2 separate regions of the Homo sapiens genome follow, and region 2 is linked to region 1. The links come from fine-mapping of genetic effects on gene expression. Tissue or cell type: whole blood. Region 1 holds a variant in brackets; the other region holds the start of a gene. All regions are shown on one strand. Distances are between the middles of the regions.

Region 1 (6,336 bases):
TTAGACATGAAGTCCTTGCCCATGCCTATCTCCTGAATGGTAATGTCTAGGTTTTCTCCTAGGGTTTTTATGGTTTTAGGTCTAACATTTAAGTCTTTAATCCATCTTGAATTGATTTTTGTATAAGGTGTAAGGAAGGGACCCAGTTTCAGCTTTCTACATATGGCTAGCCAGTTTTCCCAGCACCATTTATTAAATAGGGAATCCTTTCCCCATTGCTTGTTTTTCTCAGGTTTGTCAAAGATCAGATAGTTGTAGATATGCAGTGTTATTTCTGAGGGCTCTGTTCTGTTCCATTGATCTATATCTCTGTTTTGGTACCAGTACCATGCTGTTTTGGTTACTGTAGCCTTGTAGGATAGTTTGAAGTCAGGTAGCGTGATGCCTGCAGCTTCATTCCTTTGGCTTAGGATTGACTTGGCGATGCGGGCTCTTTTTTGGTTCCATATGAACTTTAAAGTAGTTTTTTCCAATTCTGTGAAGAAAGTCGTTGGTAGCTTGATGGGGATGGCATTGAATCTGTAAATTTCCTTGGGCAGTATGGCCATTTTCATGATATTGATTCTTCCTACCCATGAGCATGGAATGTTCTTCCATTTGTTTGTATCCTCTTTTATTTCCTTGAGCAGTGGTTTGTAGTTCTCCTTGAAGAGGTCCTTCACATCCCTTGTAAGTTGGATTCCTAGGTATTTTATTCTCTTTGAAGCAATTGTGAATGGGAGTTCACTCATGATTTGGCTCTCTGTTTGTCTGTTGTTGGTGTATAAGAATGCTTGTGATTTTTGTACATTGATTTTGTATCCTGAGACTTTGCTGAAGTTGCTTATCAGCTTAAGGAGATTTTGGGCTGAGACAATGGGGTTTTCTAGATAAACAATCATGTCATCTGCAAACAGGGACAATTTGACTTCCTCTTTTCCTAATTGAATACCCTTTATTTCCTTCTCCTGCCTAATTGCCCTGGTCAGAACTTCCAACACTATGTTGAATAGGAGTGGTGAGAGAGGTCATCCCTGTCTTGTGCCAGTCTTCAAAGGGAATGCTTCCAGTTTTTGCCCATTCAGTATGATATTGGCTGTGGGTTTGTCATAGATAGCTCTTGTTATTTTGAAATACGTCCCATCAATACCTAATTTATTGAGAGTTTTTAGCATGAAGGTTGTTGAATTTTGTCAAAGGCCTTTTCTGCATCCATTGAGATAATCATGTGGTTTTTGTCGTTGGTTCTGTTTATATGCTGGATTACATTTATTGATTTGCATATATTGAACCAGCCTTGCATCCCAGGGATGAAGCCCACTTGATCATGGTGGATAAGCTTTTTGATATGCTGCTGGATTCGGTTTGCCAGTATTTTATTGAGGATTTTTGCATCAATGTTCATCGAGGATATTGGTCTAAAATTCTCTTTTTTGGTTGTGTCTCTGCCCGGCTTTGGTATCAGGATGATGCTGGCCTCATAGAATGAGTTATGGAGGATTCCCTCTTTTTCTATTGATTGGAATAGTTTCAGAAGGAATGGTACCAGTTCCTCCTTGTACCTCTGATAGAATTCGGCTGTAAATCCATCTCTTCCTGGACTCTTTTTGGTTGGTAAGCTATTGATTATTGCCACAATTTCAGATCCTGTTATTGGTCTATTCAGAGATTCAACTTCTTCCTGGTTTAGTCTTGGGAGAGTGTATGTATCGAGGAATTTATCCATTTCTTCTAGATTTTCTAGTTTATTTGCGTAGAGGTGTTTGTAGTATTCTCTGATGGTGGTTTGTATTTCTGTGGGATCGGTGGTGATATCCCCTTTATCATTTTTTATTGTGTCTATTTGATTCTTCTCTCTTTTTTTCTTTATTAGTCTTGCTAGCGGTGTATCAATTTTGTTGATCCTTTCAAAAAACCAGCTCCTGGATTCATTAATTTTTTGAAGGGTTTTTTGTGTCTCTATTTCCTTCAGTTCTGCTCTGATTTTAGTTATTTCTTGCCCTCTGCTAGCTTTTGAATGTGTTTGCTCTTGCTTTTCTAGTTCTTTTAATTATGATGTTAGGGTATCAATTTTGGATCTTTCCTGCTTTCTCTTGTGGGCATTTAGTGCTATAAATTTCTCTCTACACACTGCTTTGAATGAGTCCCAGAGATTCTTGTATGTTGTGCCTTTGTTCTCGTTGGTTTCAAAGAACATTTTTATTTCTGCCTTCATTTCATTTAACTTAATGTCCTCAGGTTCATCCATGTTTTAGCATGTGTCAGAATTTCCTTCATTTTTAAGGCTGAAAATTATTTGGTTTTATATATATATATATGTATAGTGTGTGTATATATATAGTGTGTATGTATAGTGTATATATATAGTGTATATATGTATGTATGTTTATATATACATATATATGACATATAAACATATATATACTCATACATATATAGTGTATATATACACTATATATACATATATGTGTGTATATATACATATATAATATATGCATATATACATATGTACACTACATATTATATATGTATGTATACATATATATACACACACATATATATACACACCATATTTTGTTGATCCATTCGTTTGTCAGTGGAGATTTGTTTGTTTCCATCTTTTGGCTATTGTGAATAATACTACCATGAGCATAGGTGCACAAGTATCTGTTTGAATCCCTGCTTTTACTTCTCTTAGGATTTTATCCAGAAGTAAAATTGCAGGGTAACATAGTAATTCTATTTGTTAATTTTTTGAGGAACTGCGTGATATGGTTTTGCTGAGTCCCCACCCATATCTCATCTTGAATTGTAGTTCCCATAATCCCCACATGTCATGGGAGGGACCCAGTGGGAGGTAACTGAATCATGGGGGCTGTTACCCCCATGCTGTTCTCATGATAGTGAGTTCTCATGAGATCTGATGGTTTTATAAGGGGCTTTTCCGTCTTTGCTCGTCACTTCTCCTTCCTGCCACCATGTGAAGAAGGATACGTTTGCTTCCCCACTTCTGCCATGATCATAAGTTTCCTAAGGCCTCCCCAGCCCTGTGGAACTGTGTGTCAATTAAACCTCTTTCCTTTATAAATTACCCAGCCTCAGGGAGTTCTTTATAGCAGCATGAGAACAGACTAATACATTGCCATAGTACTTTTCACAGCAGCTCCACCATTTTATCTCCTGCAACAGTGCACGAGGTTCCAATTTCTCCACATTCTCACCAACATTTGTTATATCCT[G/GT]TTTTTTTTTTTTTTTTTTTCAAATAGTAGCCATCCTAATATTTGTGAAGTGGGAAAATGAAGTTTCAGCCATTAAACTTATTTATTTATTGTTTCCTAGTGGACTCTATTAGGAAGGCTTATTATGGAACTATCTAAGGGATCCTTACATAGTTCCAAGGAAGGGGCTGTCACATCAAAAAGCCCAAACATGTGATTAGAGATTGGAAATTTCAAACCCACCCCATTCCCCTAACTTCCTAGGAGGAGAGAAGAACTGGAGATTAAGTTCAGTCATATGGCCAATTATTTAATCAATCATGCCTACATAATGAAACCTCATTAAAAACCCTGGACACCATGCTCAGGGGAGCTTCCTGATACTAAGAGGGCGGCACACCCTGACTCTGTGGAAGCAGAGGCTCCTGTGCTCATGACCCTTCCAGTCCTCCTCCCATGTACCTCTTCATCTGGCTGACCATTTGTATACCTTATAATGAAATGGAAATTGAAAGTACAGAGCTTTCCTCAATTCTGTGAGTTGTTCTAGTGAATTATCAAATCTGAGGGGTTGTGGGACGTCTTTAATTTGTAATTGTCCTGGCAGAAGTGCAGATTGCTTGGGGACACCTGAAATTTGTTGTTGGAATCTGAAACGGGGCAGTCTTATGGGACTAAGTCCTTCATTTGTGGGTCTTCACTAATTCTGGGTAGTGTCAGAATTGAATTGAATTGTACGACACTCAGAGAATAAGTGTCAGAAGACAAAAAGAAAATCATGAGGAATTCCAACATGTCTTGGTTATCCATGGAGAAGTTTCTCTAGTATAGATCAATTTAAAAAAATTAAACATTGTAATACTAGAAATCATAGATTTTACGAGACAGCTGTATGTGGCAGAAAGTACATTGAAAGCAGCTCTTAATAACTGTGTAACCTTGGAAGAGTCATCTTGACCTTGAAGATTCACGGTTTCCACATCTTTATAAATAAGGATAACAATACCTGCTCGTGATTATTAGTTTTATGTGTCAGCTTGGCTGTTCCATGATACCCAGATATTTTGTCAACATTCTGAATGTTTCGGTGAGGATGTTTTTGAATGAGGTTTACACTTAAACTAGTAGACTTTGACTCAAGCAGATTGCCCTTCATTAGTGAGTGAGTCTCATCTAATCAGTCAAAGGCCTGAATAGAACAAAAGACTGACTACCCCAGAGCAACCAAGAATGGACTCAACTGCAGAATTAGCTCTTCACTTGGGTCTGCAGCCTGTCAGTCTACACTGCAGTTTGGACTTGCCAGCCTTCATAATTGTGGGAGTGAATTTCTTAAAATAAATCCCCCTCTCTCTCACCCTCTCTCTTCTCTCTCTCTATTCTCTCTCGTTAAAATTTTGCATATAACTTTTGCTGCTCCCAAAACTTAATTATTAATAGCCTAGAGGTGACCAGAATCCTTATCAATAACATAAGACAGTCGATTAATACATATTTTATATATTATATGTGTTATATACTGTATTCTTATGATAAAATAAGCTAGAGAAAAATGTTATTAAGAAAACCATAATGAAGAGAAATATATTTACTGTTTATTAAGTGGAAGTGGATTGTCATTAAGGTCTTCATCATTGTCTTCATTTTGAGTAGGCTGAGGAGGGGGAGGAAGAGGAAGGGTTGATCTTGCTGTCTCAAGGGTGGCAAAGGAAGAAAATCCACATATAAGTGGATCTGAACAGTTCAAATTTGTGTTGTTCAGGAGTCACCTGTATACACACACACACACACACACGCACACACACACATCCTATTGGTTCTGTTTCCCTGAAGAAGCTTGACTACACTATTTCATTTGGTTGTTGTGAAAATTAATGAAATAATGTATATGAGACCATTTGTAAATTTTAAAGCACCATAATACATAAGGAAGGTTGTCTGCCTAGTACATGTAATGTGTAATGAGCTTTGCTGAGGCTGTATAGACATGTAAATTAACGTTTACAAATGTGTTCATAGAATCAATATTAGAGATAAATGGATTAAAAATATCACAGGAGAAGCTAGAAGATAGCAACAAGTTGGGAGATGAGCCTCCTGGACTTGTGTTCTGGACTGATAGAGCATTTGTTGTCATAGTAAACTCCACGTGGACAGAAAACCATGGCTTAGTTGTCTTAGTTCAATTTGCATACTCAGCATCTAGCACAACACTTTGCACCTTGTTGTTGCCCAGATAACTGCTGAAGAATAAGTGATTTTTATCTATGTAATCACTTCAAAATTACACTTCTGTGAGTGACTAGGTGGAAGGACACGAAGCATTTTAGCATATGGCATGGGGGGTTAGAAAATATATATGTGTTGAGGTCAGTGCGGTGGCTTATGCTTGTAATCCCAGCACTTTGGGAGGCCGAGGTGGGAAGATCATGAGGTCAGGAGTTCGAGACCAGCCTCACCAATATGGTGAAACCCCCGTCTCTACTAAAAATAAAAAAATTAGCCAGGCATGGTGGAGTGTGCCTGTAGTCCGAGCTACTCAGGAGACGGAGGCAGAAGAATCACTTGAACCCGGGAGGCAGAGGTTGCAGTGAGCCGAGATCATGCCACTGCACTCCAGCCTGGGTGACAGAGTGAGACTCCATCTTAAAAAAAAAAAAAAAAAGGAAAAGAAAATATGTATGTGTTGAAGCTAGTCACGCCTACAGAAGTGTCGAATGTCAATTAATCATAGTCTGTATGCTAAATAATAGAGGCAGAACTTTAGGCTGGCTGGGGAAAGGCCAAAGCCGTGAACCCAGGATGATTCCATGAATAAAGCCAGACCTCACTCTCTAAAACAAATGGCTTTGCTTCCTGGGACCTTTGCTGAACTTCACATAATAGCAAGGTGCAAAAATAGCTTGGAGGAAAAAGCAGGGCCACTGCTCTGAATGAATACTTTAAAACTCCAGGACAGTAACTGGAATGCAATTTAGCAACACAGCAAATACTACCCAGCTCAAATCACTAGATGATATTTCTTGCAGCAATCAATGGCCAGTCTGGACTGCATTAGCATGCTTCACAACTTTATGGATTGTGGCTTATGTGGGCAGATATTTTGAGACTTGGGTGTGGAAGAATATGCTTGCTTTCA
Region 2 (5,920 bases), 54 kb before region 1:
TTTACTGGCCTTTGAAAGGTCATGAGACAGTAGAGGTAAAATGTTTGACCAGAAATCTGATATCACAAAATAAGTCACTGGTCAATCAATGGGGAAAAAGACAAGATTTTAAAATAAAGCAATGTAACCAATATGAAACGGTAAATAAAAGTCAAAACTTTGACTAGCTTGAAGGTTGTAAACCTATTCTGTGCATGCCTTATCAACTAAAAAATATTTCCTGTAATTGTTTACATTTCTACAAAGTTAGAAAATCATCAGCCTTCAGGGTATAAAATTATACTGGCACTCTATCCTTCATCTTCCATTTGCATTTTAACAAATAGCCTAAAACAGACCTGTTTTACATCAAAAAACCACCACCACGACAACAAAAGAGAATGCTTTGACAAAAAACCAAGTTACCATGACACTATAGACACAGCAGCCATGGTGAGACTCAAGCACTTGGCCACTTTCTTTTATATCCATCCAATTCACATGATTCACATAACTTAGTATTTTCTACCCCAGCAATATAACAAATAATACTTATCATCTTATCACTCCTATTACAGAATCCCATTTTAGGACAGCTTCACACAGCCCAGTATTCTTTGGCCTGTTAATAATCTCTCATCTGGTCTACAACTAATGCTATTGCATTCTGAGTATGGGCCTTTATATAAACTATAACACAAATTCAAATCAGTAAGGAACTTATCCAATAAAACTGTAATGACAACACCACCAACAAAAACTATTCCACTGCCTGGCAATTACAAAACTGTGTATTCTACAGCCCACGAGTTTTACTTCAAAGCTGGCTTATCCCAAACAGCATTACCTAGCAATAGACAAATATTTACCTATTAGAGATTTCTCCACTCAGAACGGGTACACTTAGGTAGTTTGACTTTTTAAGACTTATTGATTTTCCCTACATTTTAAAAGTTTTTTTATTAAGTGGTAATCTAGTTCAGAGGTCCAAGAGTTAATCCTAACTGAGATGCCACCCATTTTCTTGAGGCCTTGAAAACGTTATCCACAGTTTCAAAATGCCAGTACTGTAAAGGGCCTTGGAGGCTATCTGGTACTACCTCTGCAATTCACATACTGAATTAGGTGAAGCACTTTGAAAACTGACACTACTATACAAAAAGTATCATTTCCACCTATGAGGCCCAGAGAAGAACACACATAGGAAGTTAACCACACAGAACCAGGGCCTAGAACTGAGCTCTTCACTCTTAATCCCACACTCTGAACATGCCAAGTGAGCTATTTTAAATTGTTGTGGGAAGCTTCGATAAAACTGTATGCACATATTTATGCATACATGGCATTTGACAAATCCTACAAGCTAGACTTTGCAAAATTAGTACAACCCAAAGGGCACACCACTTTCCCCAAATAGTAACACTGTGCTTTCTTAGAACATTACTAGTCCCTATCTCACCTCTAGTTTCACTCCCTAATACAAACTCAACTACTCTAACCTCCTGTTCAAACCCTTTATTCTTTAAATGATGCAAGTGTATTCTATAAACAGTCATTTTCAAACACTTAGGAAAAAGAAAACAAATCTACACATCTAGACTCCCATCAGGTGAATGCAGGAGCCCTCTTCAGTAAACCCAACAAAGAAGCAGGATGTTTAATGTTGACAACAGATTCAGCACTTAAGCAAAGATGATTTACAATTTCATTTTGATGCCTCTACAAAATAACTTCGCTAAGATCACACGATACCAGAAGTTTCCAACAGGTTGTCTAGTCTTGCACAGAATTAAACTAAATCAGTTATGTGCAATTAATTCCAAAACCTTTTGGTGCACAGTGCCAACAATTAAGAGATTTCCAATATATTTTTCTGGACATACTGCTCATGGTAGCACCGGGCACTCTCCTTTTCCTAAAGTTGGTGGATGGTGGTATGGGATCAGAAACTGTTTTTAAAGTTGGTGGGGGGGGATGACAACAGGAAGATTCAAACTCTGGTTTTTCCCTTGGATTTGTATCTTTGCAGATATATTAATAAACATATCAAATATGGTATATTGTGGAGATACTGCTGCACAAGAGTCGCAGGCTTTTTTATTTCACACACTACCCAGTATACCAGCCCCTTGTCCTGACATTTCTCCTTAATAACGTACATATACAAGTCAAATTTTCTCCCTTTTCCTTCTTAGCACCAAAGACCTGTGCTTTTAAAACAAGCTCGTAGTGTCCAACGACCACGTTCCAGCAAGGAAAAGGCTCACGCTGAAGGACTTTCCGGAGTGCCCTAGGCCTCGCAGTCCTGCAGAGTAAAAGGGGGTGTGTCCGCGGTTGTTTCGGCCCTTTTCCCCCGGCAGCCCTCAGCGGCGCCCTGGGCCCCCTTTCTCGCGGCGGCCAGGGGAGCTGTTCGCAGGGCGTCCAGACCTCAGGCCACTGGCTCACTTTCTTGGAGTGGGTCCCAACCAGGGAACGAGGGCGGGGGCGGCGAGGGCACCAACGAATCCTCAAACCCCTCACTCTGAGGCCACTCGGCAGCCCCTCTTCGCCCTCCCCGCGGCGCCCCTGCCTCCTAAGTCCCTGCATGAACCACTGTCCCTCTCTCTCCCCCTCTCCCCGGCCCTGCCTCTCCCTCGCACACACGCCCAAAGGCAAAGGAGGCCCAGGGAGAAGCCAGAGGACCTGGGGGCCGCGAGAGAGGCAGGACCGGCATCTGCGGTGCCCTGGGAAGAGTCGTCCCGAGAGGTCCCCCCGAGGGGGCGCAGCCGCCACCAGAGCCCCGGCCGAGCCCGGGAGCGAAGCGGGGCCGAGCCAGGACCCACCAGCTGCTTCAGGTCCTCCTCCGAGAGCTCCGCGTAACGGTACCGCTGCTGCTCGAACTCGTACCGGGTGGTTTTGGCCACCACCACCACCCGGGAGGGGCGGAAGCCGCCGTCCGCGCGGCTGCCACAGCCCGCCAGCTCGCGCGGCTGCCCCTGCCCCAGGTGCCGCCGGCCGCCACCGTCACCGCCCAGCCGGGGCCGCGCGGCGGGGCCTCCCGCACCCGGTCCCCGCAGCGCCGCCGCCCGGCCGCCCGCCACGCGACAACAGCTGCCCAGCAAGAAGCCTCGGTAGCAAGTCATCGTGGGCCGGGCCGCGGCCGCGGGCTTGGGCTCGGGCCCCTTGCCTCAGCTCCCTACCGCCGGGAGTGCGCGCCGTCCGCGCCGCCCGGGCCTCTAACTTCGCGCCGGACGGGCAGAGGTTAAGTGCCAGGACGTGCGTGGCCCACGCGGCTAGGGGGACGTACCCAGGCGTTGACGAAGGCGGGGAAAGCGTGGCGATTGGGAAACGGGAGACCCCACGCGGGAGAAAGGTGGGCGGGGAAGAAATGGAGGCCCCAGCTAGTGGGTTTTGTTTGTTTGTTTATTCGTTTCACTCACGCCTGCATAATGGCTGCTTCGCCGCCCGGGGGCGACCTCCCCGCACCACACGCTTCCCCGAGGTCGCTCTTCTCCCGCCCCCAGGCTAACTCTATCGGCCAATCAGAGCCCGCGGCGGCTCCGGATCCGAGGGGCCGCGCCATTGGCTGCGGCCTGAGAAAGAGGTAGAATTCTGTTAGGCGATTGCGTCGCCCTGAGGAATCCAGCTGGATCCGGTCTGAGGCGGCGCGGGGCCAGCGGGTGGGGTTTTGAGCGGCTGGCGGGAAGGCAGGTTCCTGGCATATGCTCGCTTGGGTTCTGTTCTGCAGGCCGACCACGTGCCCATTGGTTTATTTGACCAGGGTCGGTGTGATAGCTGGTGTGTCTGGGGCCGGGCTGGGGGCTGAGGAGGCGGACCCGGCTCCTGCTGCACCGTGTGCGTGGCTTGGCACGAAATCCTCTCGGCGTGGGACCCAGTGCCCGCCCCGCTGCCCCCTGCCCCCCCGAAGAGCCCTACCTATAGGACAAAGTCCAAATGAATTAGTTCTTTGAAAGCTTTTAACTGGAAAGGAGTGAGTTAAAGCAATGTTTGATGACTATTGATCTGGCTTTGGAATCTTGGGTAGCTTGGGAGGCAAGAAGAGGAGGAAGGGATGCTGTTGGGATAATGACCCGTGGAGTGATCAGGACCTGGGCTGGGGTGTGACGAGAACAGAAGGAAACGTCCCATTGTAAGGGGAGAACCACATGGCAGTGCACATCCTGCTGTTCAATTCCGCAGCTCCTTAGATCCCCTTCCCCTGGCACTGTGTTTGCTCCTTTGTAGTCCTGGCGCTACGTCGCTTCTGGACTTTGGGCAGGTTACCTCATCTTTCTGGGCCTCAGATTCCTCATCTGTAAAAAGGGGGTTAGGGTGACCCCAAGGTTCTACCAAGTCCAAATCGATTCAGTGAATCTATGACTCTCCTCACGGGCCCACCAGCACCAGCGTTCATTCGTGGGTTCCCGCGGTGTGCCTGCTGTGTGCCAGGTAGTGTATTGGACTGGGAGCATACACAATGAAGCCCGATAGGTGTTTACTTGGTAAAGTTCTACCACTGACCCGTTCTCACCAAGAACTTTCCCTCACAGCAGCTGCTAATAGTGACGTGTAGTGTAACAACCTTAATAACCTGAGCTTCTAGAGGTAACATCTATAACTATCCTCAGACTCCTTTGTAGTCTTACTATTTTAAACTTCATTAGCATTAGGAAGGAAAAAAAAAAGGGAGAAATCACAGATGACGCTTAGGTTTGAGGCCAGGGTGAACAGGGGAATGTTAATTGATCCATTCGATAGAGAAAAAAAAATGCGTAGGGAGAAACTGTTTGGGATCAAAGTCTGAGTTTTGTTGCTCATATTTGAAATCTCGGACCTCATTTCTTCCCATTTCACAGATAAAAACCCAGATTTTTGACTCTCATTTCAGCTGCAAACATATACATTGACATCTCAGTTGGAATAGCCCTTTGTCCATAGTTATTTTGCGTCTCATCTTCCACCTCCTCAAAAATAGTGTTTCTGAAGGCATCCTCTCACAGGTATCTTGAATTTTCCCTCCCAAATGAGTTTGCCTCTTCAGTATTTAAATATGCTCATGTCTATGACATCTTTAAAATTTTTCTAAAAAAACAAAACAACCTCTAAGCCTTTGTTTTTACATATTGCCTGCCTTACCTTTACAGCTGATTCTCGAAAGAGTAGTCTGTTCATCATTGCCACATCCCTGCCTCCTAGTCATTCCTCAACCTGTTGTACACTAGCTTCTCCCCACTACTTTGCTAATTACTGCTGTTTCCAAGGTGACCAAAAGATCTTGTTGGAACTCAAAAGACTTTTTTCAGTTCTTTAATTGATTGATCTTTCCAAAGAATTTGAAATGGTTATCATTTCTTCTTGAAATCTTTTACTGTCTCCCAACATACCAGTCCCTAACAGTGTTTCTCCCATCTCTATGTCCCTTTTTGACTTCTTCCTAAACCCATCTCCAAGATGTCTTCTGTCCTCGTCTCCTTGTCTCTTCTTCTCCGTCTTTTTTCCTTCTCTCTCTCTCTCTCTGTCACACACACACGCTCCTGAGTTCATTCAGTGTTGTGTAATGGAAGGATCTTGGTTCAAATCTCAGTTTTATTGTTTATTAGCTTTGTGAAACTTGAACTGGTTGTTTAACCTTCCTGAGACTACTTCTGCATTTATAAAATATAATTGCTACCTTGTAAAATTGTGAATATATGCACAGATGCTTAGCACTGTGCCCATTACACAGTAGACACTTGGCAAATATTAGCCCCTTTCATGACCTCAGCTATTACTGGCATCTTTAGCCCAGATCTTTCTCTTGAATTTCCAATCCTTATCTAGTTTCCTTTTAGATAATGTCTCTTAAATCTTACACATGTAACACACATTCGTGGAGATTAAATTAAATTTGAGTGTCACTGTAGGCCAGGCATCCTGCTAGGTGCTACAGATGAAATGATAAAAAGCTTCCATGCCCTTGAGG

The links. PIP is the estimated chance that this variant, and not a neighbour inherited with it, causes the effect.
Region 2: it holds the start of NADK2, and the variant in region 1 is fine-mapped to the expression of NADK2 in whole blood (INTERVAL, PIP above 0.99).

Annotation. Positions count from the first base shown.
Region 1 is chr5:36,292,455-36,298,790 of GRCh38, forward strand. All of the region lies in intron 1 of RANBP3L (RAN binding protein 3 like), which reads right to left. The region is part of intron 1 of LOC124900962 (a long non-coding RNA gene); the gene reads left to right. Among named protein-coding and RNA genes, the nearest start is that of RANBP3L, 6.3 kb to the right of the region's middle. The variant G/GT (reference allele first, on the strand shown) is at 3,219.
Region 2 is chr5:36,238,698-36,244,617 of GRCh38, forward strand. NADK2 (NAD kinase 2, mitochondrial) reads right to left here and starts at 3,228. Exons shown (of 12, transcript NM_001085411.3): 1 at 2,802-3,228. The coding sequence starts at 3,101. LOC124900962 (a long non-coding RNA gene) reads left to right here and starts at 3,205. Exons shown (of 3, transcript XR_007058733.1): 1 at 3,205-3,331. RefSeq lists enhancers at 2,133-2,202, 3,553-3,752 and a silencer at 2,293-3,312.